7 linked regions of the Homo sapiens genome follow. The gene in region 1 interacts genetically with each later gene. Each region holds a gene or a part of one and is shown in the gene's direction. Other genes may lie near its edges.

Evidence for each region.
Region 2: changes in VPS45 (region 1) and SLC39A9 together harm fitness less than expected from each alone (positive genetic interaction), as found in Homo sapiens cells (one large-scale study listed by BioGRID).
Region 3: changes in VPS45 (region 1) and SEC23B together harm fitness less than expected from each alone (positive genetic interaction), as found in Homo sapiens cells (one large-scale study listed by BioGRID).
Region 4: changes in VPS45 (region 1) and IGF1R together harm fitness more than expected from each alone (negative genetic interaction), as found in Homo sapiens cells (one large-scale study listed by BioGRID).
Region 5: changes in VPS45 (region 1) and EZH2 together harm fitness less than expected from each alone (positive genetic interaction), as found in Homo sapiens cells (one large-scale study listed by BioGRID).
Region 6: changes in VPS45 (region 1) and VPS51 together harm fitness less than expected from each alone (positive genetic interaction), as found in Homo sapiens cells (one large-scale study listed by BioGRID).
Region 7: changes in VPS45 (region 1) and HNRNPD together harm fitness less than expected from each alone (positive genetic interaction), as found in Homo sapiens cells (one large-scale study listed by BioGRID).

What each region holds. Positions count from the first base shown.
Region 1 is NC_000001.11:150,090,781-150,095,275, forward strand, and holds part of VPS45 (vacuolar protein sorting-associated protein 45), read left to right. Parts: intron 1-1,156; coding exon 1,157-1,315; intron 1,316-1,521; coding exon 1,522-1,629; intron 1,630-2,746; coding exon 2,747-2,868; intron 2,869-4,495. UniProt on the Homo sapiens protein: May play a role in vesicle-mediated protein trafficking from the Golgi stack through the trans-Golgi network.
Region 2 is NC_000014.9:69,453,895-69,458,389, forward strand, and holds part of SLC39A9 (zinc transporter ZIP9), read left to right. Parts: intron 1-917; coding exon 918-1,003; intron 1,004-1,837; coding exon 1,838-1,972; intron 1,973-4,468; coding exon 4,469-4,495. UniProt on the Homo sapiens protein: Transports zinc ions across cell and organelle membranes into the cytoplasm and regulates intracellular zinc homeostasis. Participates in the zinc ions efflux out of the secretory compartments.
Region 3 is NC_000020.11:18,548,857-18,553,351, forward strand, and holds part of SEC23B (protein transport protein Sec23B), read left to right. Parts: intron 1-2,232; coding exon 2,233-2,319; intron 2,320-4,495. UniProt on the Homo sapiens protein: Component of the coat protein complex II (COPII) which promotes the formation of transport vesicles from the endoplasmic reticulum (ER).
Region 4 is NC_000015.10:98,707,317-98,711,811, forward strand, and holds part of IGF1R (insulin-like growth factor 1 receptor isoform 1 precursor), read left to right. Parts: intron 1-245; coding exon 246-791; intron 792-4,495. UniProt on the Homo sapiens protein: Receptor tyrosine kinase which mediates actions of insulin-like growth factor 1 (IGF1). Binds IGF1 with high affinity and IGF2 and insulin (INS) with a lower affinity. The activated IGF1R is involved in cell growth and survival control.
Region 5 is NC_000007.14:148,810,639-148,815,133, reverse strand, and holds part of EZH2 (histone-lysine N-methyltransferase EZH2), read left to right. Parts: intron 1-94; coding exon 95-220; intron 221-996; coding exon 997-1,175; intron 1,176-3,413; coding exon 3,414-3,509; intron 3,510-4,495. UniProt on the Homo sapiens protein: Polycomb group (PcG) protein. Catalytic subunit of the PRC2/EED-EZH2 complex, which methylates 'Lys-9' (H3K9me) and 'Lys-27' (H3K27me) of histone H3, leading to transcriptional repression of the affected target gene.
Region 6 is NC_000011.10:65,102,114-65,106,608, forward strand, and holds part of VPS51 (vacuolar protein sorting-associated protein 51 homolog), read left to right. Parts: intron 1-4,495. UniProt on the Homo sapiens protein: Acts as a component of the GARP complex that is involved in retrograde transport from early and late endosomes to the trans-Golgi network (TGN).
Region 7 is NC_000004.12:82,363,220-82,367,714, reverse strand, and holds part of HNRNPD (heterogeneous nuclear ribonucleoprotein D0), read left to right. Parts: intron 1-4,495. UniProt on the Homo sapiens protein: Binds with high affinity to RNA molecules that contain AU-rich elements (AREs) found within the 3'-UTR of many proto-oncogenes and cytokine mRNAs.

The sequences.
Region 1 (4,495 bases):
CTTCATCAATCAGTGTTTGATTGTTATTTTGTTTTGTTTTGCTTTTTTACACAGTGCAATATATTTGCATCCTTTTTATTTGCACTTGCCCTTTCCCCATATAGCATAACACAGTGGAAAGTGCAACAGTTCTTGAAGCTACAAAACCAGATACTTCTTGCAGAACACACTTCTGTAGGATTATCATCTTTTTTTCTTAAGGTATTGGTAAGGCTTCCCCTTTAATCATAAGAAAGCCTATCCATTCTGGAAAAATTACATGTGAACCAATATGCCTTCTGTGTTAAACTGACACCATTTCCATATTTATCCATCTCACAGAACTAAAGTACATTAAAGAAACATGTATATAGCAGAATAAATTATATTACTTTGATCATCCTTCACCCCATTGACTGTGAACTCACTGGGGACAGGAATTGTCTTTAACTTATCTGTGTGCCTGCAACAGTGCATGACATACTGCCTTATGGGGACTCAAAAGTATTTGTTGACTTGAATTAAATTATTTGTTCTGCTGCATAATAAATATAAATCTATACTATATGGAAGGTCCTGAATATGAGGATTAAAAAATGTAAACATGGCTTCTCCTGGCCCCCTTTCCTATCGGTACCTGCCTCTTAAAATCATTAAGTACTAAATCTAGAGATTACATGCTATTACATACTCATCTCTGTCAACCATGTTGAGACATGTTCTGATGCTTCTTAGAGATCAAGCCCAGTCTGTGTAAAATTCTACCAACTTGTCTCCATTTCACTGGTCAATCATTAATACTAAGAGAAAGCAGTAGGTTTTGCAAATCAACTAGTCAGTTTTGTTGTGCCGTATTGATTCAAGTCGTGGAAATAGTAAGTGTTCTTTCAGCAAGGAAATTACAACTTCAGCTATTGGAAAAGAAAAGTGGAACTATCCATTATTAAATTCATTTTTGTCCTAAAGCAATTACAATGGAAATATATTTCCTTATTTAATTCTTACCTTGGACAAAAGGCATTTAATTTTCTATAGTTGAGACAGTTGCTAAATGTATGACTTATAATTGTCATAGTAGTGATGTATCACTACCATTCAATAATTATTAGATCTAAGGCATTGTACAACAGATGACTCAAGTGAAAGGGGGATAAATATAAGTTCTATCTTTCTTCAGAATATAAAAAGGCTTCTGCAGAACCCCAAAGTGACAGAGTTTGATGCTGCCCGCCTGGTGATGCTTTATGCTTTACATTATGAGCGACACAGCAGCAATAGCCTGCCAGGACTAATGATGGACCTCAGGAATAAAGGTGTTTCTGAGAAGTATCGAAAGGTAACCAGTTTCCATATTAGCCCACCAAACAGGAACCAACTCTGTTATTATATTCTTAGCTCTAACGAATGATAAATCATACTATTTTTATTTACAGAAATGTATAATTCTGTCTTTTCATTTTTGTTTCCTTAATAAAATTATTTTCTTATGAAATGGGCTTCCTGATGCCTAAGCAATCAAAATTTGCTTCTCTTTCTTAATAGCTCGTGTCTGCAGTTGTTGAATATGGTGGTAAACGAGTCAGAGGAAGTGACCTCTTCAGCCCCAAAGATGCTGTGGCTATCACCAAACAATTCCTCAAAGGACTGAAGGTATAGACATCTCCTCTATGCTCTCCTGAGTGAGAACAGTTGAAGTCCTTGAGGCTGAGAGTGAATGAATATGATCTTCAAAGTATCTTGAAGATTGCTGCTAATTTAGTACTGTGTCAGTTAAATGAAATTAAAACTGGCATCCTCTTGAAAGCTTTTTCTTTTAGTGCTTTCTGTCTTAGAGCCGTATCAACATTGGACCAAATAGCTTAGCAGGAAATAACTGGAGGTATTTCCAGGAAATAAGAAGAAAAAGACCAACAGTTCTGTTAGTCACAGATATTTTACACCATTTGTTTATAATTAAAGATTTTTTAGGTAGTTTCTCTTTGAAGGAAATTAAAGATGAAGCAAACTTTTGATCTTTTAAAAATACTAACCTGTTTTCTTAAAATACTCAAAAATTAATTCTAATCTGCTAGCCTTTCTTTTTTTTTTTTTTTTTTTTTTGAGACGGAGTCTCGCTCTGTCTCCCAGGCTGGAGTGCAGTGGCGTGATCTCGGCTCACTGCAAGCTCTGCCTCCCGGGTTTTACGCCATTCTCCTGCCTCAGCCTCTCGAGTAGCTGGGACTACAGGCATACACCACCTACACCCGGCTAATTTTTTTTTGTATTTTTAGTAGAGATGGGGTTTCACCGTGTTAGCCAGGATGGTCTCGAACTCCTGACCTTGTGATCTGCCCGCCTCGGCCTCCCAAAGTGCTGGGATTACAGGCGTGAGCCACCGCGCCCGGCAGCCTTTCTTATGTTTCCTGAAGTTTTTCTATTTTCCTGGGTATTTTCAGTCTTTTTTATACATAATCCTTTCCTTTTATTTGCTCTACCTATCATTTAACATTTCACAAAAGGGTGAGAGACAGTGAAGACATGATTAAGGATTTAAGCAATTCCATTTTTAAAAAATCCTTTACAATAACTAGCCCTAAATTACAGAGTAATTTTTATGAGATTAGAACATTTCTAGCTGATTAAAATAATTTTTAAATTTCCCACAGTTACGTAAATCTATCCCATGAAATCTCTATTGAGTGTATGTCCTTTTCTGATATGAATATTATTAATTCTTGTGTTGCCAATTTCCCAAAAATGACATAAGAACCATTTTCCCCTGTTTTAGGGAGTAGAAAATGTATATACACAGCATCAACCTTTCCTACATGAAACCCTGGATCATCTCATCAAAGGAAGGCTTAAGGAAAACCTATATCCTTATTTAGGCCCCAGCACACTCAGAGACAGGTAAGCTAACAAAGATATTAATAATAAAAGCCAGAAATACTGAACAAACAGAAAATTTAGAGTAATGTTAAGGACTAAAGCTGAGGTTATAGCATTCTGCTGCTCCTTTCTTCTGTTAAGATTCTTTTGGTTTTACATATGTCAGCATTAGATATGAATTCCCCTGCTAAGTCTGAAACATTTATTTCTTTTGTACTAAAGAAACAAGTGTTTTGGAGAGCCTCAAATCCTTCTGTATTTCAGTATCAGACCAGTTTACTTATGCCATTTAAGGTTCTGTTCGATGGCATCTGGCATTTGGTGTTTCAAACATTGAGGCCAAAAATAGGCTTGCTGCTTGATTGCCATCCAGAGCAGGTTGTTACTATTTTTGGTGAGGACTGGACTTTGCCAAATGTTGCCAGCACACAAACTGAGAGACCTAATTAATAAAGGCCATTTGTTACACAGGAGCAAAGGATGGCTTTCTTTTTGAGTATTAACTAAAGGAAGCAATAATTGTCATCTTAATCCAGTGGTTAATTTTTAATAAAAACAAAACTTGTCCAGAACAACTTATTTAGGCCAACCTGAAATTTTAAATACTGTATACATAAATTCTACCTAGTTAAAAATTATATATTTTTTTTGTTGGAACACATGTTATCTAAGGGGCTAACATATATACTTGAATCCTATTGGATAGATTAATGTGAAAATTTTACTGTTGACATAATTCTTCTATTATTTCAGTTAATAAACATCTAAGAGCCTTGGAAGTATAGTGTTTTATAAACATAATGAGATTCTGAATGAGAAAAATGTTTTGAGATACATAGGTGATTCTTTTATGTGATAAAGTGTATTTTTTCACTTTGTCCTTTAAAAAATTTTTTTCTGTAATTTGGTACAGAACAGAAAAAAAAATCATCTTTTAAAAGTCCAAGGTTGAGATGCAGAACATTTGGTGTTAAATTCAGAGAGTACACTCATTCAGATAAAATGTTTAAAGACCTTGGGATCAAGATTCAGAAATGTCAGCTAAGTGGGAAGAATGAACGCCAGCCCAAAGTTATGCACCTATCTGAGAGGCTTTTTAAAAAACAACTATTCTTGAGCTTTTGCATTAATGTGATAAATAAAAACATTTATTTGCTTATGAATTTTTATAAGAATTACTGAACAAGGAATTATTTATTACCAAAGGGAAACCACAGGCCACCGGAAGAATATACTGTATATGATCAGTACACAGCAGGAAACCTTTCTAATTTACATAATTCATTCCCACACAAAGCTCAAAATTATATTCCTTGAACAAAATGCACATTTATCAGTTGTCAACATCTGTTACCATTTGTCACTATAACCTAAGTATGCATATAGTTAATAATTCAGTTGCTTTGTCCTTTTACACAACAGATGTTGATTGAATGCTTTCAGTATGTTAAGAGCTGTTGTAGATGCTGGCGATATAGAAGTGACAGGAAAGACAAGGTACCCGCCCTCAAAGAACTTACATAGAGACAATGAGTAAACAAGTAAACAAATGAAGAATATAATTTTAATAAGTGCTATCCAGGAAATAAATAGGGTGATGAGCTTCAAAGTAATTGTAGGGGTGGGGAGGACTACTTTAGATGGAGAG
Region 2 (4,495 bases), on another chromosome or scaffold:
TTACTGTCTAGCTCTTAAGAAGAAGTTTGCTCTTTTCATTCTTGGCTCTAGAATGTCATCTGGAAAAGAGCCTTGGCGCTTCTGTCCTGAACAGCTCTGTTACCAGTTTATATGCAAAACACCAGTTTAAGCAGAAGTGGTATGCAGTGGAATGCAGAGATCTTAGCATTGCTGACAGGGTACACTTTAGAATCATAACCCAAACCTAGTCCTAGTAATAGAATTCTGTCAGTGGCAAAGAAAGGCATGTGAAAGGTGGTACACTGTTACCTGGCCCTTTCTAAGTATAATATGCTTTTCTAACAAATTTCATTCATTCAACCAGTGTTTACTTATTAAGTAGTAATCATCTATATAGAGTTCTAGTATCTTTATTTTATTTATTTCTTTTTTTGAGACGGAGTCTCACTCTGTTGCCGAGGCTGGAGTGCACTGGCACGATTCGGCTCATTGCAAGCTCCACCTCCCGGGTTTAAGCAATCCTCCTGCCTCAGCCTCCCAAGTAGCTGGGACTATTTTGTTTCTTAACCTATAAGATTAAGAGATGCTTCCTTTGAAATTCTTCTTTGGTATTTCCCTTGTTAGAATTTGATTAACTAATCAATGGATTTTTGATTAGTTGGAAAATTGAATGTTAGTTTTCCAATAACAACAACAGCAACCAAAATAACTAACATTGAATACTCTGGGCCAGATGCTATGCTCTTTACATAAGTTATCTCATTTAATCCTCATGAAAACCCTAAGAAATACATACTTCATTGAACACATTTTAAAGATAAGGCTGGCATGTAGAAAGGTTAAGTAACATTACTAGATCCAGCTGGACCTGACTGTAAAGCTCATACACTCAACCACTACACTGTTATTGTTGTTGTTGTTTATAGTATTTTATGTTTCCTTGTTTCCAAATATAGCTGATGGTGTTGCTTTGGGAGCAGCAGCATCTACTTCACAGACCAGTGTCCAGTTAATTGTGTTTGTGGCAATCATGCTACATAAGGTAAGCAACATTTTGGTGTAAGGTTTGGTATTGAGTGTATTCATAATTAAAATTTCTCATGGTCCTTAATGTTTTTCCTGGAATGGGAACATTTTCTTCATTTCATAATTGCTATTCATTTTGGAAAATTGAATAAATCTGTTCATAGCTTCTTGTTCCCATTTTCTTAAGCTTTTCCTTGAGGGGTTTCAATTTTTTTGTGTAGACATATACACAAATTGTCAAATTCTCCTCAGATTTTTATATTTCATAGTAATAATTTCTGTTCAAAAGTATTTTTCTTTTCTTGACTGTTTCTCTTTTTTACTATCCAAGAAACACACAAATAGGATCTTTTCTTGGCTTAGAACATTAATTCCTAAGAGGCATAGCTCAGCGTTTGTACTCTGCCTGGTTTTGTTTTTTGGTTTTTTTTGTGTGTGTGTGGGTTTTTTGTTTTTTGTTTTTGAGATGGAGTTTGCTCTTGTCACCCAGGCTGGAGTGCAATGGTGTGATCTCGGCTCACTGCAACCTCCGCCTCCTGGGTTCAAGCGATTCTCCTGTCTCAGCCTCCCAAGTAGCTGGGATTACAGGTGCCCACCACCACACATTTTTGTATTTTTAGTAGAGACGGGGTTTCACCATGTTGGCCAGGCTGGTCTCGAACTCCTGACCTTAGGTGATCCACCCACCTCGACCTCCCAAAGTGCTAGGATTACAGGCATTAGCCACTGTGCCTGGCCTTTTGTGAGTTTTTCTTTGTATGAGAAATCATAGTCAAATGGCATATACTTCTTGATGTAGAAGCAACCCATACTTCTAGAATGATAATAAGAGATGATTTTTTATTTCCAGGCACCAGCTGCTTTTGGACTGGTTTCCTTCTTGATGCATGCTGGCTTAGAGCGGAATCGAATCAGAAAGCACTTGCTGGTCTTTGCATTGGCAGCACCAGTTATGTCCATGGTGACATACTTAGGACTGAGTAAGGTAAGCTAATCTATTCCCAGCTATCTAAACCAGTGTCTTGTGATCTCTTAGAATTTATGATCTCTTAGATTGAATTTTTCCAATACATTACTCTCTCAAACTAAAGATAAAATTAGGAGTAAAAACTATACAGGGTAAATATCTTAATTCCAATGCGTCCTCTTCATATTAGCATTTTCTTATTCATTTAATTTGAAAACTTCTTCCCTATCAATCAGTTCCAAGAATATTTGCATAAATATGATAGCGCTTCAATATTTAAAATAGTATAACGTAACCAGCCATGCTAGCTTCATTTGACAGATATCTAATAAGTCAAATCTGTCCATATTTAATGTGAGGTAGACACCTGAAGCGTGAGTAACAAGCCACATAGCCGCTTTGAGAAGAGCAGCAGCTGGGCAGAGATTGCTGTCAAGAGTTTAAAAAACTGACATTGATTACTGAAGTGATAGAGTAATCTTTTAAAGGGAACAACATACTGCTCACTGAAAGAAGAGAAGGCTTTTCAGGTAAATGGAAAGGGTTTTTATAACACACTGTTAGCAACTAAGATCAACAAACCCTTCCTTAACGGGAACTTAGCCATTCTTGGTCTCATTTTTCACGTTCCTCCTCTTCTCCCAGCTCTCACGTCCCCAGATAGTAACTGTACAGTTCTTTCTATTGAATACTTTGTACTGAACATAGCTTCAGACCTGAGGTAACATGTGCTCTTCTGACTCCAAGCTGGACCTTCCCATGCCTTATAATCCTGTCTGTAGCTCTGAGCAACAACCCTCCGCATTTTACCCAGATGTCAACTGGCAGGCAACTGGAGGAAAATCTTAGAAGCAAACTGACTCAGGGCTAGTTGATGGGAACTGCTTTCCCCAACACCCTCTCTAAAGGTCATTGATTCTTCTGAGCATCAGTCAATTCAGTATTTGGCAGTAAAACCCATATTAATAGGAACATGTGAAAAATGAGATAAAGAATGGCTAAGTTCCTGTTAAGCAAGGGTTTGTTGATCTTAGATGCTAAGAGTGTGTTATAAAAACCCTTTCCATTTACCTGAAGAGCCTTCTCTTCTTTCAGTGAGCAGTATGTTGTTCCCTTTAACAGATTACTCTATCACTTCAGTAATCAGTGTCAGTTTTTTAACCTTTTGACAGGAAGGTGCTGATAATTCTGGAGACATGGAGTTACTTGCTGCATCTATGGGATGTCCTTTTCTTAAAATTTTAATTAGTTGTCTTAGTCCATAGGTCTACTTTTTTAACAGAAAAGGTTGAAATTAGTTTTATAAAGATTAGCTTATGAGATATACATATATATACACACACACACACACACACACATTTTTTTTTTCCTTTGAGATGGAATCTTGCCTGTCACCCAGGCTGGAGTACAATGGCGCAATCTTGGCTCACTGCAACCTCTGCCTCCCAGGTTCAGACGATTCTCCTGCCCCAGCTTCCGGAGTAGCTGGGATTACAGGCGCCCGCCACCATGCCCGGCTAATTTTTGTATTTTTAGTAGAGACAGGGTTTCACCATGTTGGCCAGGCTGGTCTCGAACTCCTGACCTCGTGATCCGCCCACCTTGGCCTCCCAAAGTGCTGGGATTACAGGCATGAGCCACCACGCCCGGCTGCTTAAGAGATATTTCTAGGCTCTATGAGGTCAACTACTGCATCTTGATTACCACTGTATCTCAAGCACCTGGCCCAGAGCCTGGTGCATAGATGATGCTTGTTAAATATTAGTAGAATAAATAAATTTATGTCTGAAATTTAATATCTGCAATAATATATTGTTGATTCTATCTCAAGAATAATACAAGCCAAACCTGTTGAACCAGCACTTAAAGTTCGTTTTAAAAAGCAATTGTGAACCAGGAGCAGTGGCGCATACCTGTAGTCCCAGCTACTTGGGAAGCTGAGACAGGAGGATTGCTTGAGCCCAGGAGTTCCAGGCTGTAGTGTGTTATGATTGTGCCTGTGAATAGCCACTCAACTCCAGCCTGGGCAACATAGCGAGACCTCATCTCTAAAGACAGATACAGTCAATGAATGGATGGACAGAATGATGGAACTGTGGTGAATATAGTTTAATAATAGTGTGTGGTACATATCAAAATTGCTAAGAGTAAATTTCAGATGTTCTCACCACAAAATATGATAAATATTTGAGATGACAGATGTTAGTTTTATTTAATTAGTCCACATTTTATTCATGAATCATAATGTCACTTTATACCCTATAAATATATATAATTATAAATTGTTGATTTACAATAAATTTTTTAAAAAATCAATTGCGTACATCACTGATATTCTTAAACCCTTATTTGGAAGCTTCCCATGAATAACTTAAAGTTGCTGTGTTCTCTAGATGTCCCCAGTGTCCTAGACAGCACCAGTTAAGAACAGTGAGTGTTTTTTAACTGGGACTTCTTCCTGACCCTGAATTTTACTTGACTTAGTTTTTCCTCTTTCTCTCTTCTAATTCACAGAGCAGTAAAGAAGCCCTTTCAGAGGTG
Region 3 (4,495 bases), on another chromosome or scaffold:
AAAAAGAAGTAAAATTTGGAGTTTTTATAGTAATTTAACATTATTTCTATTAAAAAATACCTTTAGGAAAATGTCAAAGGACATATAAAGCTATTATTTGTGAAAGGCAGGAATAAATGTAAAAAACTCTAGGAAATAACTTGGATGCTTTCTTTTTCCTTGTGCTTGTATACTTACATCCAACAATTCCATGTCTTGTATCTGAAGGAAAGACTCCTAGATACAGAGTAGACTTTGTGCCAAAAAAAAAAATAGTAAAGGAACTACTATAATAGAGGATCAAATAACAATCCGAATGTTTAATATAGGAAAATAAATAAGTAACCTGAGAAATGCAGTTGACCCTCAGTATTCATGGAAGATTGGTTCCAGGACCTCCCTCAGATACCAGAATTCTTAGATACTCAAGTTACTAATATAAAATTACATAATATTTGCATGTAACCTTGGCACATCCTCCTATATACTTTAAATCATCTCTAGATTAGTTATAATACCTAATATAATGTAAGTACCATGTAAATAATTGTCATACTGTATGGTTTAGGGAATAATGACAAGAAAACAAGTCTGTACATGTACAGTACAGATGCATATTTTTTTCAAATATTTTCAGTCCAAGATTGGTTGAATTTATAGATGTGGAACCCACCGATACGGAGGGCCAACAGTATTCACAAAAAGTATGTAACATAATAAAATAGATAAGTCCTTATGTAAAAATGTTACATGAAAAAAAGTCAAAATAGAAACGTTTCTAAATATTCCCTGCAAAAATAAAGAACTATATGGAAAAAAACAAAATATCAATATTTGTTGTACTTGGGTACACATTTAAAAATTTTCTTTATCGAGTACCACTTACTTTTATTATTGAAATAATTACTAAAATAGCAGGGGGATCACATGACATCAGGAGTTTGAGACCAGCCTGGCCAATGTGGCGAAACCCCATCTCTACTAAACATACAAAAATTAGCTTGGAATGGCGCCAATAATCCCAGCTACTTGGGAGGCTGAGGCTGGAGAATCACTTGAACCCCGGAGGCGGAGGCTGCAGTGAGTTGAGATCGCGCCACTGCATTCCAGCCTGGGCAACAGAGCAAGACTCCCTCTCAAAAAATAAAAATAAAAAAGAAATAATTACATATATAAAAATTATATGTGTATATGTAAATATAATAAATTATATATGTATATATAAGAACTATGTATATAAATATATATGTATATGATTATATATGTATATATAAATATAAATTATATACTTATATAATATAAAATATTACTTACAAATAAATAATAAACGTATTTTTTTTTGAGATGGGGTGTCTGTCACCCAGGTTGGAGTACAGTTGTGCGATCTTGGCTCACTGCAACCTCCGCCTTCCAGGTTCAGGTGATCCTCCCACTTCAGCCTCCTGAATAGCTGGGACCACAGGCACGTGCCACTACAGCCCGGCTAATTTTTTGTGTTTTTGGTAGAGATGGGGTTTTGCCATGTTGCCCAGGCTGGCTTTGAACTCCTGGGTTCAAGTGATCTGCCTGCCTTGGCCTCCCAAAGTTCTAGGTTTACAGGCATGAGCCACTACGCCCAGCCATAATTTATATTTTGTAGTAAACTTTAAAAACTTGTATTAAATGCTGCTTTTCATATAGGTATCCGTATTCTGTCTCATCTACAGAGAATGTCTGTAGAGATTGCTAAAATACATACAAAACTGAGAATATTCAGAATTATTTTTCGTTCCAAGATCAAAAGATATCATTAAGCCTGGACAACATAGTGTGAGACCCTGTCTTTACAAAAAATAAAAAATTAGTTGGGCGTGGTGGCATGCACCTGTAGCCTCAGCTACTCAGGAGGCTGAGGTGGGAGGGTCACTTGAGCCCAGGAGGTCGAAGCTGCAGTGAGCCAGGGTCACATCACTTTACTCCAGGCTGGGTAACAGAGCAACACCCTGACTCTTAAAAAAAAAAAAGGTATCATTAATCTCCGTTCTCAATTGATGAGGAATTATTTGGAGCCTATTTTTCCTACAAAGTTGAGAATGAGTCAGAAGCAGAAAGTGGAAGTATGTCAGGAAGAAAAGGGGTGACTTACTGTGCTGGGCACCATTTGTAAATAGCCTTTGCTGTGGATACCAGGCATGGGATCAGGGTCGGGTGGAAGTGGTTGCTGTGTGGGGAGCAGGGAAGACCAATGCCATCTTTCTCTCTCTTTTTCTTCAGCCAGTACTCTTGGATAGCAGCAGCATTCTAGCTGACAGAATTTTGCTGATGGATACTTTCTTTCAAATTGTCATTTATCTTGGTGAGGTAAGATGATATTATTAATTAATTAATTTCTTTTTGTTTTTAAATTGGAGAAAAGGCATACACATTTAATGTGCACACAAGGAGAATTATTGTCCTTAACTATGGTTTTTGTTTTCTTCTCTTATTTATTAAGTTAGGTTTTTAATGACATTTGTAACCACAGTTTGGGCTTAGAAAGCACCATGGCTTTTATTCTAGTAAATCCCTGGAGTATTTGTATATTTATTAATTTTAATCATATTTGCTGTTAAGTATGGGCCAGGTGCAGTGGCTTATACCTGTAATCCCAGCACTTTGGGATGCTGAGGTGGGCAGATCACCTGAGGTCAGGAGTTCAAAACCAGCCTGACCAACATGGCAAAACCCCATCTCTACTAAAAATACAAAAGTTAGCCAGGCGTGGTGGCACACACCTGTAGTCCCATCTACTTGGGAGGCTGAGATGGGAGAATCACTTAAACCCGGGAGGTTGAGGTTGTAGTGAGCTGAGATCACACCACTGCATTCCAGCCTGGTCAACAGAGTGAAACTCCATCTCAAAAAATAAATAATAATAATAATAATATATGCTGTAAAAAAATCTCAGGTGGTTATTTTAAATCACTGTAAATTATTACCTTCGAAGTTAGGCAAAACTAGTTTTTTCTCCTCAGTAAATATTTTATACATACTGCTGTTCTTTCAGAGTTATATACATACTGCTGTTCTTTCAGAGTTAGTGTTTAGAGCTAAGGTTGTACTTTGATGAAATAACATGGCCCAGGGAACTTTACGCTGTGTCTGTGGATCCCTAGGATGGCTGTGGATAGCTTTCAGTCCATTTCTTTCTCAGTGGGGTTCATGCCCTGAGAAAGGGAATGGCTCCTCTGAATTATTTGCATCTTTATGGCAAAAAATCCTTTAATGAAGATGATGGTGATATTTATATTCAGTGATGCTTTTTCTTCTATTGTATGATCTCTACCTTCTTAAATTGGTTATTGATTTGGTTTCCTAATGGCCAACCATTAGAAATGATTTCTGATGTCGTGAAAAGATATAAATTGTGTTTCAGGATTCCTTCAGTAACTTAGGAAGTGTTAGTTTTCTAATACTCCTAAGTATTTTATAACTTTAAACTTTTTTCAGCATGTTAACACCCAGTCTGCTAGCCACTTGCACGCAAGTGCTAGGCTGTCAGTAATAGTCCTAGACTGAGAGCCGGATGACCAGCTGCTCTTCCCACTGGAACCTTTGGTATCAGTACAGTTGGCCCTCTGTATCCACGGGTTCCACCTCTGCAGATTCAATCAACTGCAGGTTAAAAATAATTTTGAAATAATAATAAAAAATAATACAAATAAAATATACAGCACAGGCCGGGTGTGGTAGTTCATGCCTGTAATCCCAGCACGTTGGGAGGCCGAGGTGGGCGGATCATCTGAGGTCAGGAGTTCAAGACCAGTCTGGCCAACATAGCGAAACCCTGTCTCTACTAAAAATACAAAAATTAGCTGGGCATGGTGGCAGACACCTGTAATCCCAGCTGCTCGGGAGGCTGAGGCAGGAGAATCGCTTGAACTCAGGAAGTGGAGGTTTCAGTGAGCTAAGATCGAGCCAGTGCACTCCAGCCTGGACGACAGAGTGAGACTCTGTCTCAAAAAACAAAACCAAAAAAACAGCACAAGAACGATTTATATAGTTTCTACATTGTATTAGATATTATAAGTAATCTAAAGATGATTTAAAGTGTATGGGAAGATGTACATCGGTTATATGAAATACTATGCCATTTTGTATGAGGGACTTGAGTATCTATGGAATTTGGTATTGGGAGGAGTGGTCTTGGAACCAATCTCACAGATACCGAGGGCCGACTGTACTAAGGATGAAGCTTTCTTTGCCTTAAGCTCATCTCCTTATCGACATTTCTTTTGCAACCCCTGATCCTGTTCATTCACTTGTTTATTGAGCACCTTCTTGTGCAAGTGAGGGGTTCTAAGGATAAAGACAGTGACATTGCTCTCACCTTCCCAAAGTCCTGAGCGTGCTGAACGCGAGTGTTCTTATGAACTTCTGGACCCTGGTGAGCTCGTGGGCATTTCCCATAGGCCAACAGTCAATCACAGCATTTAGACCTGGAAAACGGTAACTGCTACTTTGAGAAGGAGTGAGCAGGCTACAGAAGGAGGCATCT
Region 4 (4,495 bases), on another chromosome or scaffold:
CTCCCATGGTCGGTTGGAGTGTGTTGCACAGCGTCTGGTCCAGTGTTGGCACTGTATAAATGCCAGCTAACTGGTTAGCCACCTAAACTGTCAGTCTGCAACCCACAGCTCTGCAGTGAACAATTGAACCTCATTTCTTTAATAATAATACAGGATTCCTGAAAACCAACTGTATTATTGTTTGGAAAATAGTTTAAAAATTATTTCCTTCTAACTGAGACGTTTACCCTCTTGTCTCCCTTCAGTCTGCGGGCCAGGCATCGACATCCGCAACGACTATCAGCAGCTGAAGCGCCTGGAGAACTGCACGGTGATCGAGGGCTACCTCCACATCCTGCTCATCTCCAAGGCCGAGGACTACCGCAGCTACCGCTTCCCCAAGCTCACGGTCATTACCGAGTACTTGCTGCTGTTCCGAGTGGCTGGCCTCGAGAGCCTCGGAGACCTCTTCCCCAACCTCACGGTCATCCGCGGCTGGAAACTCTTCTACAACTACGCCCTGGTCATCTTCGAGATGACCAATCTCAAGGATATTGGGCTTTACAACCTGAGGAACATTACTCGGGGGGCCATCAGGATTGAGAAAAATGCTGACCTCTGTTACCTCTCCACTGTGGACTGGTCCCTGATCCTGGATGCGGTGTCCAATAACTACATTGTGGGGAATAAGCCCCCAAAGGAATGTGGGGACCTGTGTCCAGGGACCATGGAGGAGAAGCCGATGTGTGAGAAGACCACCATCAACAATGAGTACAACTACCGCTGCTGGACCACAAACCGCTGCCAGAAAAGTAAGAATGATGCTGACTGCTGCTTTCTCTCTGCCTCTCTCTCTCCTCTCCTCCTCCTTGACCTCCCTTCTCTTCTGAGTGCACGAGTTCCGCTGGGCAGGGTGCAGTCGTGTTGCATTTAGGACGTGGCATGCCTGCTGTGCGGAAGTGGTTCCCAGTGGGGGTCTTGGTTGGCTTTCCTTTGCATCTGGGACTCTTGGATTGCGGGACTGTGGCGTGGCTGGAGGCCATCATGGCTGCTGTCAAGACTGTTCAAATCACATGTTAGAAATAATCCAGCACACTCCTGGGCTAGACACTTGCTGACCTTCAGCTTTGAATTCCTGATGAGAAAGGTGACCTGGTGTGCTTGGAAGTCCCTGAGCCTTGGCAGCTGGGGGCTGCTTATGTGTCAGCTCTTTCATCCTTTGTGCGAAGTGATATTTTTTGTTCTGCAGGACTTCCTTAGTTTGAATGGACTTGGAATATGGTTAAATAAAGGGAAGGTAAAGCACTAACTCATATCCTGTGAAAGTGGTCCTTAGGTCCTAGTGATGATGTTATGATACTCAGGTGTCCTGGTTATGACAGAGCACCTGGCCCAGGTGGGAGACCTCTGGACCCATTTCTGCAAGTCCCAGGTTCAGGCTGTACTTGCAGGTAGCTGTGTAGCAGGGTGCATTTTTAAACCTCTGGGATTCTGTTTTCGTTCTTTTATACCTGTTTACTGAACAGTTGTGAAAATCTTAAGATTTCACGAGTGAAGGAACTTTGGAAAGTATTTACTGTTCTGGGGGTCAGATGGTGGTATTTTGAAGCTTCTTGTATATTTATCTGCAATATGCTTATTTTCCCTTGAGAATAACTGAGCTCTTGCCTTCATGTGATCAGTTCCTTAAGAACCAGGCTGTTTGGTATTAAAATGTGACTCTGAGCCTTCACCTTATTGCATTCAGCAATAGTTATGTATATTGGCTAGGAAGCTTTTCCTCACTGGTTTGAAGTCAGTGTGTTAGCTATAAATAGCTATTATTTAAGTGTTGGCCCAGTTAAAGATGTAAGGAACCCATGTTCTCTAGTTATGAAGAACCAAGAAACCCCAAATTGTTAGACTTGCCTAAAATAAATAAAAGGCGAGACCCCACAGGGGTGAAGTGTGTAAAGTAAATAAAGGACAGACCTCCCAGGTAGCCCTTCAGTTCCCGTTCAACCAGTCCTGAGGCAGGAAAAGGATCTGTGTACCCTGATCTGCCACGCACTTTTCTATTCTGCAGAATTGGATCAGTGCGTATGTGAACATTGATTAGTGAGGGCAGGGGTCCCACTGGCTGCAGCCAGTACCTTGTAGAGCTCTGAGAATGCAGTCAGGCCACTTTAAGGTTGGCTGGAGTTGGAGGGAGATCTTATGCTAAAGTCACTTGTGTGGTTGATTAAAACTGCCCTATCATTAAGTTACCCACTGGTTTGAGAAAACAACAAAATATATTTTTTAAATAACCTTGACATTTAAAAATTTTATCTGAAAAGTAAAAGGTGTTATCAAGGGAGGCAGCATGGAGTAGAAAAGAGATGTTGAATGTGGTGATGAGGGCCAGGAATGACCTTGGATGGGCCAGCCCTTCTGGGCTGTAGTTGGGCTTTTTTAGGATATTTCTAGGGCAGTCCAGTACATCCCTTAGTGGTGATCATATATGGGCATGAGGATGTTTTGAAAACTCATAAGCTCTTTAGAGAAGGGAGGTGCCATATGAAACGTCATTAAGTGGAGAGTTGTTCACGAACTAGGTAGGTAGTTACTTTGGTCTTGCCATAGGTTTTTGGCTGTTTCTGATGAGCTACTGATTGAAGACCCCTGGGGTAGGGGTGAGGCCTGCATTCTGGGTCCAAGTCTAAGAGTGGCGACTAGAAATGAGCAAGTTATTTAAATTGCCTGGGCCTTGGTTTCTTCATATGTGGAATGGGGTAAAGCCTGCCTTCCTCATAGGGCTGTTGGAAGATGAAAAGGAGGAAGGAAAAGCACCGTGAAAATGTTAACGATGGTTAGAAGGTGGGCTCTGCTGGTGACAGACAGAGCCTTGATATCACCTGTTGGTTGGTCACCTGCTTCCCCAAGGCCACGCCCTGCAGCCTTCTCCTTGACCATCCCAGCCCTGCTGATGTTCCTTGTGATTTCACAATGGAGTACTTATATAAAATTGGTAACTGCTTTCCGGGAAATTGACTTCCCTTCCCCTTGTCCTGAAAACTCAGGCATGGGCATATTTCTTGGAGATTTTCTAGTTGAATCAGAACTTCCTCTTGGTTTGCGTAGATTCCATTTAGACCTGCATTGTCCAGTGTGGTAGCCGCTTATTGAGTAAGCCACGTGGCTTATTGAGTACTTGAACTGTGGCTTGTCCGAATTGGGACTGCTTTAGGTGTAAAATATACACTAGATTTCCAAGACATAGTATAGCAAAAACTCTGTACACCATTTCATTAATAATTACTATGTTGATAACATGTTGAAATATAACATTTTGGATATATTAGATTAAGTAAAATGTGTTCTTAAATTTCACCTGCCTGTTTCCTTTTTATTCTTTTTTTTTTTTTTTGAGGCGGAGTTTCGCTCTCATCACCCAGGCTGGAGTGCAGCGGCGCGATCTCGGCTCACTGCAACCTCCGTCTCCTGGGTTCAAGCGATTCTCTTGCCTCAGCCTCCCAAGTAGCTGGAATTACAAGCATGTGCCACCATGCCCGTCTAATTTTTGTATTTTAACTGGAGACGGGGTTTCACCACCATGTTGGCCAGGCTGGTCTCAAACTCCTGACCTCAGATGATCCGCCCGCCTCAGCCTCCCAAAGTGTTAGGATTACAGGTGTGAGCCACCATGCCCGACTCTTTTTAATTCTTAATGTGGCTACTTGAAAATTTAAAATTACAGATGTGGCTTGCATTCTGTGTTGGTAAGCTGCTTTAGAGCATTTCTTTTAACACCAGGAGTTCTTCCCCTCATCATCTTTTTGGCTGAGTCGTCACTGCAGCGCTCATAGCCCCGCATGTACCTCTCCAGCCAGAACCCTTAGGAATCATTTGGGGAGCTCCATGAAGGGCATTGAGTCCAGGCAGAATGGCTACCTTGAGTTCAACATAAGCATTAAGATGGCCATTCGAAAACATTAAGCACAGAAGAATCCCATTCAGGTAATCTTCTGTTGGCTGGCTGTAGAACTACGGAGAACATCTGGAGAAACACGTCAAGGGTGTGTGTGAAATCGTTGAGCCTACTCGATTTTGTCGTGCTGTTGCGCGGTTTTCACTTGGCACTGTCCTTTAAACTCCTTCTGTGCCGTGACTCTGCAGTGTCTGGCAGCGTAGTAGACTCTACTCCCTCTATGGACGTGATCCCTCTGTGGGTTCTCTGCACACTTCTGTATTTCTCGGTTCTTTTTGGATTTAGGAGTGGATTTTATACATTTTTGAGTCATTCCTAAAGAGCGATTGACCCTTAAAGAACTGTGTACAGTGGTTTCCTTTCAGTAAGAACATAGTTGTGTGGCACCCCCTGACATGTGGTGTGGTTGATTCTTCTTCCTTGTCTTCCAACGCCACCCTCTTATGAGTCTCTTCCTACCCCCACAGGTGCCGCTTCTCTGTCTCCCTTCCCTCAGTCTGGCTTTTAACGGTGGTCTCCTGACATAGTCCATTCAGGCTGCTGTAACAAAATCCCATACCCTGAGTG
Region 5 (4,495 bases), on another chromosome or scaffold:
ACAGGTAGTAGGGAAGAATGTACTCGTGTTAATTGTGTATGATCGTTTCCATCTCCCTGGATTCATTGGCCTGCATGATGTTATCTTTACTCAGACGGCTCCTCTAACCATGTTTACAACTATCAACCCTGTGATCATCCACGGCAGCCTTGTGACAGTTCGTGCCCTTGTGTGATAGCACAAAATTTTTGTGAAAAGTTTTGTCAATGTAGTTCAGAGTGTAAGTATTTGTTGCTTTGATGCAATTGCATGAGAACTAAATAGGTCTTTGGTTAGCAATTTAAAAAATCAAAAATAAGAACATGGGAGCACTCCCTTGTTTACTTGACGAAACTCATCAATTTGACAAGTATTTATTGAGCCCCATACCTGGCCCTGTGCCAGTGGCCAGTCAGTCGCCTGGGTGTTGTGTGTCTGTGTGTGTGAGGCAGGCAAAGTTGTATTAAAGGAACCTGAATTTTATTTTTTTCTTCTTTGATCATTTAAATTAAGTTGTATTAAAGTTGGCACAGATTGTAAGAGGAATCTAGAAGGAGCTACCCAAATAATTTTTGGGCACCAGAAATCGTCAGAGTTAGGAGGGTTTTAGTCTTCAGATTAAAGGAATGTAGCATAAACATAGTAGATTTTTATAATTGTTTAATGAGACTGCACATGAAGCTTGGGTATTAAGGGAGTGTTTAGAACTAGGGGCTATTGGAATGGTCAAGGACCATGGATATTGTTCCATCCAGACCCTTTATTCACACCGACTTTAAATATATACACTATTTAACAAATGAAAAATGGAAAAACAACTCAGTGGTGGTCTTTTTCAGTGCAAACAGCTATAACTTCGCTGTTAATACTTCCATTTCCTTGTCTATATAGTAGGGTAATAAGGTGGTTGTGAGGGTTGAGAGTCAGTGAGATGCCCAGTACAGCCCTTGCCACGTATCTTTCTGCAAGTTTTTGCATACGGTGATGAGTGAAGAACCTCCAAACCTCTCTCTGAAGGTCAAAACCGCTTTCCGGGATGCCGCTGCAAAGCACAGTGCAACACCAAGCAGTGCCCGTGCTACCTGGCTGTCCGAGAGTGTGACCCTGACCTCTGTCTTACTTGTGGAGCCGCTGACCATTGGGACAGTAAAAATGTGTCCTGCAAGAACTGCAGTATTCAGCGGGGCTCCAAAAAGGTGAGCAACAAGTCACTTCTGGAAGATTGTTTGTAGTTAGCTATTTAGTGATGCAAATGTCAGGATTGCCTTAGATGATTTAGCTGGGGCAAAAAGTAAAAGTGATCCTTGAAAGGTGCAACTGATGAGAAAGTGTTCATAATTTTCTCTGGGTAATGCACCCTTGGGCAGTCTCTTCAGTTTTATATAGAGCACCATACTCTGATAGTAGGAGAAACCAGCAAATTCTGAGAAGTAGCCATTCATGGTATCAGATTTAGGAATAAGAGGTATTTTTTCTACCTGTTTAATAGATTATTTGAATTTGTCTTTTAGTTAATAGTTTATCTAGTATCCTTAATGCAAATAAATGGTGATTTCTATCAAAATATAGACTCATTCTCATCAAAGAGTATTTATAGATTCCTTGCTATGTAGAGTAAAAGATGAAATTTCCCATGGCAGGTTTTTATAGACTTACTTCCTGTTTGTTTAATAACCTTGAAAAAAACCCAGCTAGGAACTATATATTTTTAGTCTGGGGAATTGTATGTAGGTGAGTTAACTCTATCAGCCAGGAAGTAATGATTGAGCAAAAGACACTTCAGCAGCATGTATTTGGGAAATTTCGTATCTTTTTTTTTTTTTTAGGGCAGATGATAAGTTCTTTCTTCAGTCAGTTCTTTTTATAATAATAGCTGACATTTATTAAGCATGTAAAAATAGGCACTGTTGTGAGTGCTTTAGTGGATTTGTTCATTGATTCTCCTAACCCTGTGAGTGAGGAGTAAGTGTTAACCCCCATTTTACGGGTAAGGAAACCCAAAGTCACAAGACTTGTAAAGGAGCAGGAGATCAAATCCTCCAGGCTCCCATTAACCTGCTCTTATGCTCTGTGTGTGTGTGTGTGTGTGTGTGTGTGTGTGTATGTGGGGTGTAGAGTAGACATATCTTTGTTGTTGGACCATTTATTTATAATTGAGAACACACTTCTTACCAGCAAGTCCCCTTCTACCAGAAATTCTGCTCCAGGCAAAACATTGAAGTTCTCTTGGTTTTGTTTGTGTCTTTGAACCAAAGTCTGTGTTTATGGCAGAGAGTTGTGCAGGGTGGTGGGCTTTTTGTTTTTAGCTTTGACTTTTTTCTTTTCTGTTAGACATTTAGATGATTTTACTCTAGGCAGTTATATGTCCATTTAGGTCATTGGATCACAGTGACTCTGGTTCCGTTTCCGATGGCATACCTGCTCAGACCTAAAAATCTCAATTTCCCCCCCAAACAACTTACCATTGTACTCCTTCCTCACTTTGTTCAGAAAGTGGGCAATTCTATTCATACTGACATGTCCTCTTTGTAAGACATTTTTTAACTCTTAAAAATGTTAAACTATGTAGATACCTTTTACCAGTTGGGTTTCATTTGCATAGCAGTATTTAGCTAATTTAGTTTCTGATCAGAAGGCTATTTGGGAAGTTCACATGACAGGTGAGTGGTAAGATGGTCCAGAATAGGAATAGATAGGAAGCCTTTGTAAAGGTCACAAGAAAATTTTGGATGAAAGCATAATACTGAGCCGTGATGAAAAATTGGCATATGTTGGGGAACACATCCCTAAATACATAATTTATAGCAATGATCATCTTGGCATTTCTGCTGAAAATAGACTACTGGACTGACAAGATCATGATAACACCTCCCGGTAGTTTCTTGTGTTATCCTGAGGAGGTGGGGTGGAAGAACAAATCCAAAGCCAAGCTGCTATGGGCTTCAGAGGGAACCAACGCCAGTGAAGAATCAGGGGGTGTCCTGGGGCTGAAAATGGAATAACTATTAATAGAATCACTTGGGGAAAGTAGAGGGAAAGGTATGGAGAGGAAGAGTGATTTGGTGGTGTCCTTATATTAAATTCAGGTTGAAAGTGAATTACTCGAGGAAATCAAGGGCTGAAGATACAGGGAAGCCAAAAGTGCAGCAGGCCTAGAGCACCTTGCTGAACGATGGTCATTGCAGAGGACCAACACCACCAAAAGGTTTTCTGTAAGACAGAGATTCTTATCTGCTGTATAAGGAAAACATAATGTTCATAGCCATTCTCAGCAGCTTTCACGTTGACTGAAGCTGTGTGCCCAATTACTGCCTTAGAACAAACAGGTCTGAGGATTTACAGTGATAGCTTTTGTTTTCATTCTGTAGTCTACTTTGTCCCCAGTCCATTTTCACCCTCCTTTTTTGATGATGTGATTGTGTTTTATTCTCTAGCATCTATTGCTGGCACCATCTGACGTGGCAGGCTGGGGGATTTTTATCAAAGATCCTGTGCAGAAAAATGAATTCATCTCAGAATACTGTGGAGAGGTAAGGCACTGATAACCTGTATTCAGGTGGCATTGTATATACTAACTTTACTTTATTTTAGATTGATTTTATTAGGTAAGTCTGTGGGTTTGATTGGAAATGAATTGCCATAAACTGCCTTTTCAGCCTGGACTTCTGCATGTTTGTGGATTTGCATGCTTAGTAACTGGATTGTGCTGGGCGCGGTGGCCGACTCCTGCAATCCCAGCACTTTGGGAGGCCGAGGCAGGTGGATTGCTTGAGCTCAGGAGTTGGAGACCAGCATGGGCAACATGGCAAGACCCCATTGCTACAAAAAATGCAAAAATTAGCCGGGCGTGGTGGTGCATACTTGTAGTCCCAGCTACTTGGGAGCTGAGGCAGGAAGATCGCTTGAGCCTGGAAGAGCCTGGGAGGTTGAGGCTGCAGTGAGCCATGTTTGTGCCACTGCACTCCGGCCTGGGCGACAAAGTGAGACCCTGTCTCAGAGGGGAAAAAAAGCAAAACAAAACAGGATTGCTTGGTTCTAGCCACATTTAGTTTTTCTCGTCTAGGGACAACAGGGAGAACAAGAGCTTTACCATAGAGTGGCCTGCTTAATCCACAACCTAGTTGATAAGGACCTAGAAACAACAACGTCATTAGTTATTCACCTTTTAAATTGTCGACAGTGTTACCGAAAAATCATAGGCCTAGCTTCAGTTTGGAACCAGCTCACCCAAATTTTTTTTTTTTTTTTTTTTTTTTTTGAGACAGAGTTTCGCTCTTGTTGCCCAGGCCGGAGTGCAATGGCGTGATTTTGGCTCACCGCAACCTCAGCCTCCCGGGTTCAAGCGATTCTCCTGCCTCAGTGTCCCGAGTAGCTGGGATTACAGGCATGCGCCACCGCGCCCAGGTGATCTGCCCGCCTCGGCCTCCCAAAGTGCTGGGATTACAGGCGTGAGCCACTGCAGCCGGCTTTTTTAAAAAACTCAGCAAAAAGACTTTGGTTCCTCACTTTCTCCAAG
Region 6 (4,495 bases), on another chromosome or scaffold:
TTCAAGTGATTCTCCTGTCTTAGGCTTCCAAGTACCTGGGATTACAGGCACCTGCCACCACACTTGGCTAATTATTGTATTTTCAGTAGAGACGGGATTTCACCATGTTGGTCAGGCAGGTGACCTCAGGTGATCCACCTGCCTTGGCCTCCCAAAGTGCTGGGGTTACAGGCGTGAGCCACTGTGCCCAGCCTGCTTTTCTTAACAAGCTTGAAATGCAAAGATAAACAGTGTAGTCTTTGTGACTGAATGGTGTGGATGCTTTCACTGTTGTTTTTGGATATGGTACAACTTTTATCTCCAGTGTAATGGCTCCATGGCTGGGAAGGCAGCGACAATGACAGCACACAGCACTGTTGGGTTTTCTTTTACTCTATTTTCCTAACAACTTAGTGTTTGGATTTTACCCTTTAGAAGTTGGATTCAAGCTTCCTTCTTGAGGTAGCCCCTAAGTGTCATGGGCTCAAACACCCACTACCAAAAGAGTCTGCTCTTTTCATGGTAGCTTTTGGCAGACCTGGAAGGAGATTGTGTCACATGGCCTGTAAACAAAACCAGTAATTCACTGGGTGAAGACCAAATGCCTCATCAACTGCCAAGCCTCTGTCTGTCTCCCTTAGATCAGTAGCCCATGATCCCTTTACGAACCTCAGCCTCGGCTCTGCTTTTATTGTTTTTCACTGCATAGCGCTGCCTTTGCTATGTCCTTTAGTTCACCATCTATGAATTGGCAAGAAAAATTTTCTTGCCAGGCACAGTGGCTCACTCCTGTGCTCCCAGCACTTTGGGAGGCTGAAGTGGGAGCATTGCTTGAGCCCAGAAGTTTGAGACCAGCCTGGGCAACATAGAGAGACCCCATCTCTACACAAAATTTAAACAAAAATTAAAAAATTAGCCGGGTGTGATGGCGCTTGTGTGTAGTCCCAGCTACTTCAGAAGCTAAGGTAGGAGGATCACTTGAGCCCCAGAGTTCAAGGCTGCAGTAAGCTGTGTTTGCACCACTGCATGCCATCTTGGCTCACTGTAACCTCCGCCTCCCCAGTTAAGGTGATTCTCCTGCCTTAGCCTCCTGAGTAGCTGGGATTATAAGTGTGCATCACCATGCCTGTAGACAGAGCAAGACCCTATCTCAAGCAAAGAAACTCAAAATAATTATGATTTCCCCAACAAAATGCAGGCAATGGTCCCTATGGTCCCAAAAGTAATATAGATGTTTCACATCATGTGATTTTATTCCTTAGTAACCTTCCTTTCTATGAAATCATCTCTAAGAGGGCTAAATGATCCTTTCTTGTGGACTGTGTTGTTAAAATGAAAAGTCCATTTTGCTGATACGTAATCTACCTTTCCATGTAATTTTTTAAAAAATCCCTTAATAGCTCTACAGATGTGAGCCCTGTAGATTCTTTGTCTCAGACAGTTCTTTCTCTTATATTTTCTCTAATATTTTTTTCCTGCATTTTTTGTTTCTGTTTGTTTCTTGTCAAATTGACATCAATGCTTTTCTCCTTACTCACCCTTCCAGCTGTCTCCCCAAGTGGGGTAGATTCCCAGTGTTGCTTGGAGAACATTCCTACAGTCCCAGAGCCACACACAGACCAGGTGTGGGTGTGTGAAGGCTCACAAGTGATTGCAGTTAGATATTTCCAGATTCTTCTTTGTAAATGCTGATCAGTTTGCATAACCACCAGCAAAGAAGAGAATACCTCTTTCAATCTTTGACAATCTGAGAAGTGAAAAGTGGTATCTCTTATTGTTTATAGTAACGTTTACAGGGTGTTTTTTTTTGTTTTTTTTTTTTAGGGCTTTCTATTTATTCAATTATTATTATTTGAGACAGAGTGTTGCTCTATTACTCAGGTTAGAGTGCAGTGGCACAATCTCAGCTCACTACAACTTGTGCCTCCAGGGTTCAAGCGATTCTCCTGCCTCAGCCTTCCCAGTAGCTAGGATTACAGGCACCTGCCACCACGCCCAACTACTTTTTGTATTTTTACTAGAGACAGGGTTTTACCATGTTGGCCAGGCTGGTCTCAAACTCCTGACGTCAAGTGATCTGCCTGCCTCGGCCTCCCAAAGTGCTGGGATTACAGGCATGAGCTACCGTGGCTGGCCTATTTATTTGATTATATCATCTGCAAATAGTGATACTTCTCCCTCCTTTCCAATTTGTGTATCTCCATAATACATCTCGTGACTCTAGCTGAGTTGGCTAATGCCCCAGAACAATGTAGATAACATTGGCAATCAAGGTTGTCCTTGCCATGTTTTGACTTTAATTGGAGTGCTTCTAGCACTGCCTCGGTAAACATGATACTGAGTTTTGGAGGTCAGGGAAATATTTAGCTGCTCATATGTTATTGAGAGTTTTTTAAAAATCAAGAATAGATGTTGAAATATCTATTAACATGGCAAATTATTATGAGATCCTCTAATTTTGAGTCATCCTGGCATTCATGAAACAAAAACCCTTTTGTGTTTATCAATTATTATTTTAATATGCTGCTGGATTTTGTTTGCTTATTTGTGCATCTCCATTTGTTTATTTAATTCATCCTTGCATCTCCATTCATAAGAGATATGAATGTGTATATGTGAGGTATTTCTGTTATGTTTTCATAACAGTGTTATGTTTGTTCCATCAAGTTTGTGTGAGAGCTGTTCTCGTTTCTCTGCTGGGGCAGTGTTTACACAGAGAATTGGAAGGCGCTGTCCTTCAAGCCGCCGCAACACCCCTGGACATCTGGGCCAGATGCCTTTGTGTGGAGGGGAAAGGGGAGTAGGACCTTTCTTTCACAACATTCTCTAGTTTTTCTGTTTCTGTTTTCTTGTTTTTTGCAATCCATTTTGGTAAATCCTATTTTTGTAGCAAATTATCCATTTCATCCATAGAATTCACCAAGCCCTTACCAATTTAGTGTTTTCTTGGTATTTTACCCATGCTGCAATTTCAGTTTTGATTTCCTTTTCTGACCTCATAATTGGTTAACAATGAGGTTTTTTCGACTGGGCACGGTGGCTCCCGCCTGTAATCCCAGCACTTTGGGAGGCCGAGGCGGGTGGATCACTTGAGGTCAGAGACCAGTCTGGCCAACATGGTGAAACCCTCTCTACTAAAAGTACAAAAATTAGCCAGGCATGGTGGCACGTGCCTGTAATCCCAGCTACTCGGGGCTGAGGCAGGAGAATCGCTTGAACCCAGGAGGTGGAGGTTGCAGTGAGCTGAGATCGCGCCACTGCACTGCAGCCTGGGCGACGGAGGGAGACCCTGTCTCAAAAAAAAAAAAAGAATGAGGTTTTTTTCTTTGTGATCTACCATATGGAAAGGTTTGTATATATTTTATGGCATTGTTTGGGAAAAATGCAAACTGTGTGCTTCCTATGCTCTCACATCACCACAATCATGACCACAGAAGAGTTCTGTGACCAAATGTGTTGGGTTTCTTCCCCACACACCAAGCAGCAGACACCCGCTGGGTGTCCTCTGATTTAATTCCAACACTATTTACCCAGAGATAGCATCAGATTCCATGAGTTGAGGGCTGAGTCCCCAAGCCTGCCTCCCTTCAGGCACTAGTTCAGTCCCAAATCTGCCTCCCCACTTTCAGGCACTAGCTGCAGGTCAGGGCCTCAGGCCTCCAGAATTTCTGACCAACTGGCTCCAGGTAGGGGTTTCCATAACTCCCTCTTTGGGCTCAGTTTGCTGGAGTGGCTCACAGAGCTCAGGATAACACATTTACCAGTTTATTACAAAGGATGTTACAAAGGGTACAGATGAGCAGGTGCATAGGGCGAGGTGTAGGAGAAGGAGCATGGAGTTTCCATGCCCTCCCCGGGCGTGCCACCCTCCAGGAGCCTCCAGAGCTGAGATCGCGCCACTGCACTCCAGCCTGGGTGACAGAGTGAGACTCTTTCTCAAACAAAACAAAACCAAAATATCTCCTGTTACAGATACACATTTCTGTCTTATCCTCTTCGCCTTTCTTTATGAACATTGTTGGTATGTTCAATGGAATTAGGGAAATTAGTTGGGAAATGTTGGCAGTTGTTGGACAAGAGATGATAGTGGCTTACAAAGAAAATGTTGCAGGTAGACCTTCCATGACTTGGTAATGGATTGATTACTAGGTATATTAATCCAGGTTCATACTGCTGTAAAGAACTGCCCGAGACTAGGTAACTTATAAAGGAAAGAGGTTTAATTGACTCACAGTTCACAGCATGGCTGGGGAGGCCTCAGGAAACTTACAATCATGGCAGAAGGTGAAAGAGAAGCAAGGCATCTTCTTCACAAGGCAGCAGGAAGGAGAAGTGTTAAGCGAAGCAGGGAGAGCCCCTTATAAAACCATCAGACCTCGTCGGGTGCGGTGGCTCATGCCTGTAATCCCAGCACTTTGGGAGGCCAAGGTGGGCGGATCATGAGGTCAGGAGATCAAGACCATCCTGGCTAACATGGTGAAACTCCATCTCTACTAAAAATACAAAAAATTAGCTG
Region 7 (4,495 bases), on another chromosome or scaffold:
GACTCCAATTTACTGGTGGTGCTTGGCCAGTAATCAAGGTGACAGTTTAAGTATTGGGTCTTGCACTGTAAACTCCTGCTTATCTAGACTTCAGACTACCACAGAGCCCACACAGCCAGGAAGTCTGTCTCCCCATTTAGTCTTATGAGCAAGATAGATGAAGCCATGAGAAAATATACTCAAAAAGCAACCAACAGACAATGTCATGGAATGAATCTCCTACAGATTTTTCCTTACACTTTTGAAAAGTAACATGATTTTAAAACGTTGGAAAATTCATCAAGGTACAAATCATTTTCTGACTTCAGCATTGATACCTAAATTGATTTCCAGTACACAGTTTTATAGAATTGTGAATATGTAGTAATCTCAGTTAACCAGAACCTTAACCTTCAGGTTAAGGAAAATACCTATTCCTTAACCTCTAGGTAAATGGGAGTTTACCTTACAAAGCTGATTGAGAGCTTATTTAAAACGTAAACATACAAGATGTCATTGCTTCCTTGTAGTGAAGTGAAAAGGAGGTATTGGATTAAGCATTTAAAGTTAATTAAAGTAGTGGCTCGTGCCTGTAATCACTGGCTACTCAGAAGTCTTGAGGTATGAGGATCATTTCATGCCAGGATTTCTAGACCAGCTAGGCAACATAATATGACCCCTGTTTCTTTAAAAAAAAAAAAAAAAAAAAGGCTAGTGTGTTGGGGGGTGTGTTTGTAGTTGTAGTTACATCTACTCAGGAGGCAGAGGCAGGAGAATGTGTTGAGCCCAGGAAGGAGCTCAGGGCTGCAGGAAGCTATGATGGAGCCACTGCATTTTGATAGTGAGACCTGGTCTCTTAAAGTGTTTTATTTTTAGGCCAGGCGTAGTGGCTCACACCTGTAATCTCAGCACTTTGGGAGGCCAAGATGGGTGGATCACCTAAGGTCAGGAATTGGAGACCAGCCTGGCCAACATGGCGAAACCCCAGCTCTACTAAAAATACAAAAATTAGCCAGGTGTGGTTACATGCGCCTGTAGTCACTCAGGAGGCTGAGGCGGGAGAATCACTTGAACCCTGGAGGCGGAGGTTGCAGTGAGACAAGGTTGCACCACTGCATTCCAGCTTGGGCAACAGAGCAAGACTCCGTCTCAAAAAAAGAAAAAAAAAGTTTATTTAAAAAACTGTCATGTTGGCCGGGCGCGGTGGCTTATGCCTGTCATCCCAGCACTTTGGGAGGCTGACGCAAGCGAATCACCTGAGGTCAGGAGTTCGAGACCAACCTGGCCAACATGTTGAAACCCTGTCTCTACTAAAAATACAGAAATTAGCCGGGCATGATGGTGGGCATCTGTAGTCCCATCTACTTGGGAGGCTGAGGCAGGAGAAGAGCTTGAACCCGGGAAGCAGAGGTTGCAGTGAGCCAAGATCGCGCCACCGCACTCCAGCCTGGGCGACAAAGCGAGACTCTGTCCCCCTCCCAAAAAAACTGTCATGTTTCATTTATTAGATGTTTATTTTTTCAACTTCGCTTTTTAGTAGTCATTTAGTTAGGTTCATTCTAAAGTGTGAAGTAATGAGATTTAATACAGAGAAGTCTCTGAAAATGTTTGGTCCATTGTATATTAGTCTTGAATAAATGGAATTCTTTTTCACACTTACCTTGAAAATGTCATCTGTAGAAAGCTGGGGGAGAGGAATACCTATTCTTTAATGATGGGGAAATAATACCAAAATTTATATTTTTATTGACTAAAGTGTTTTTTGGGGAAGATTTGTTATTGGCTAACCTTAATGTCTCATTAGTTTTAAATAGTTAAAAAAAGTGGGCTGGGTGCGGTGGCTCACGCTTGTAATATAGCACTTTGGGAGGCTGAGGTGGGCAGATTGAACCCAGGAGTTCCAGACCAGCCTGGGCAACATGATGAGATCCTGTCTCTACAAAAAAAAAAAAAAAAAAAAAAAATTAGCTGGGCCTCGTGGTGTGCACCCATAGTCTCAGCTACCCAGGAGCTTGAGATGGGAAGATTGCTTGAACTTGGGAGGCAGAGGTTGAAGTGAGCCAGGATCACACCATTGCACCACAGCCTGGCAATAGAGCGAGACTCTGTCTCAAAAAAGTGGTTTTCATGAATTTTATACCAGATCAGATCTAAAAAGGCTGGTTAGTATTTGAACTCGATGAAAGCTTGTCAAGCTCTCTCCCAAGGTAGTTTTCATACAACTTGTAAAATACCCTAACGTGTGATATTATCTAGTTGCATTGTAACCTCCTCCCTTCCCCTTAGGTAACTAGTGACTTAGCTTTAGTTTGTCATTTTAGGATTTTAGAAGAATAATTATGATGGATAAAATACTGGAAAAATTCAGTAAGGATTTAATGGTGTGCTTGAGTAACATTACTTTAAAAGATGACAGTGATTGGTCATTTATGTTTTATACCTGAAATGTATATCAGGTTGACATTCTGTTGTATTTTTTAAACTGTCAGAACTTGTTATAAAGCCATGTATGTAAGATCATAAGTTGTTAGGAAGTGTTTAAAAGTTAAAGGATTGGCTGGGTGTGGTGGCTCATGCCTGTAATCCTAGCACTTTGGGAGGCTGATCGCTATGTCCAGGAGTTCTGTGACTAGCCTGGGTAACAGAGCAAGATCTCGTCTCTAAAAAAGTAAAAATAATACGAAGTTATAGAACATAGAAAAAGAATACTATTCCAAAATTGGGAGTGAGTATAATGGCTAACTTTTTACCTTGAATAAGGTGTTTGACAATAAAGACTTATTAGGGGAGGTATCTTGGAATAAAATAGTTAATATTGACTGGGAATGTTAAAAACCTAGTGACCTAAATAGTCCAGAGAATAAGTTTATTGATGGGGAAAAGCCAGGATTATTAAATCGGAACATTTTCCACCAGCCAGGATTGCTCCATGTATATTTCCTTTTATGTTTTAAATTATTCTTTACTAAAATTACTGGCATAAATGTAGGGTAGACCAAGTCATCAAGGTGATTTTGGAAGCTACATTTAAAGGGTCTTAGTTGAAATACCACCTAATTTTTAGTTTATATATTTTTTTACATGGACTATTTAAAAATTTCTGGGTTATTTCAAGTTGGCAGCATTGAAAATATTAGAATATGTTTATATAAAACTCATTGTGGCCTTTTCCTTTTAATGTTGGAAAGTTTATAAAGCCTATGCAGTTTTAAAAAATTAAGCCATTGAGTAAATAAAAAGTTTGCTTTATTAAATTATGTTTAGATAGTGCTTATAGTGCTTTACCCCTTCAAAATAGTAACTTCTATCAATCATTTAGGATGTGTGTCAGACTATTCTGTGTCCTTTAAGTGTGTTAACTAGTTTTAACCCTCTGCAAATATCTGAGGTATGCTCTTTTTACAGATGGGAAAACAATCTTGGACTTTAATATTTTTTCTTAATGTTACACAATTAGTAAGAGGCAGGGGGCCAGGTGGAGTGGTTCATGTTTGGAATTCCAGCACTTTGGGAGGCTGAGGTGGGCAGCTTGAGCCCAGGAGTTGGAAGACTAGCCTGGGCGACATAGTAAAACCTGATCTCTGCAAAAATATTAGCCGGGTGTGTTGGTGGGTGCCTGTAGTCCGAGCTACTGGTGAGGCTGAGGTGGGAGGACCAACTGAGCCCAGGAGGTCAAGGCTGCAATGAGCTGTCATGGAGCCAGTGCACTCCAGCCTGGGAGACAGAGTGAGACCCTGTCTTAAAAAAAGGCAGCAGTAGGGTTTAAACCCCGGCATTTTGTCTTTATTGCCTCTAAACTTAACTTGCTTTAAAAGATGATAAAATGTCCCACAAAGGAGCCTAAATTCCTGAATGATACTGCATATCACTTGGATAGTTATCTATGCTGAGTTGTATAACTTTATGCTTGTCATTTAATTTTACAATTTGGTGGAAGCCAATGTGAAAGCAAGGAGACTTCTGTTGTGGAGTAGGTGTTTTAAACTGAATACCATATTCAGCCTTGGGGTGCTGAATATTTAGTTCACAGCTAGGATTAAGATACTCAACTATGTTAATAAAATACAGTAGATGAAGTCCTGCATTTTAATTGGGATTGATTCACTTAGAACTAAGGATCAAAGTTTAAACTTATTGCAGCGTTAGGGGCCATCTTTGTTGCTAGTTGAACAAGTCTTGGTCGTTTTTAACATGGCTCCTTAGGGTATTTTCTGAAGTTCTGTCTACTTCATTGGAAAGTGTTTGCACTACGCAGGAGTGACAGCAATATGAAATGCTTTGTATTCAAGGCAGCAGAGGTAATCTGGACAGACAGTACATGTGCTTTAAAAGCAAGATACAGTCATAGAAAATATGTAGATAATTTAGCCGGGCATGGTGGCTCGCGCCTCTAATTTGGGAGGCCGAGGCAGGTGGATCACGAGGTCAGGAGTTCGAGACCAGCCTGACCAATATGGTGAAACCCCATCTCTACTAAAAGTGCAAAAAAAAATTAGCCTGGCATGGTGGCATGCAC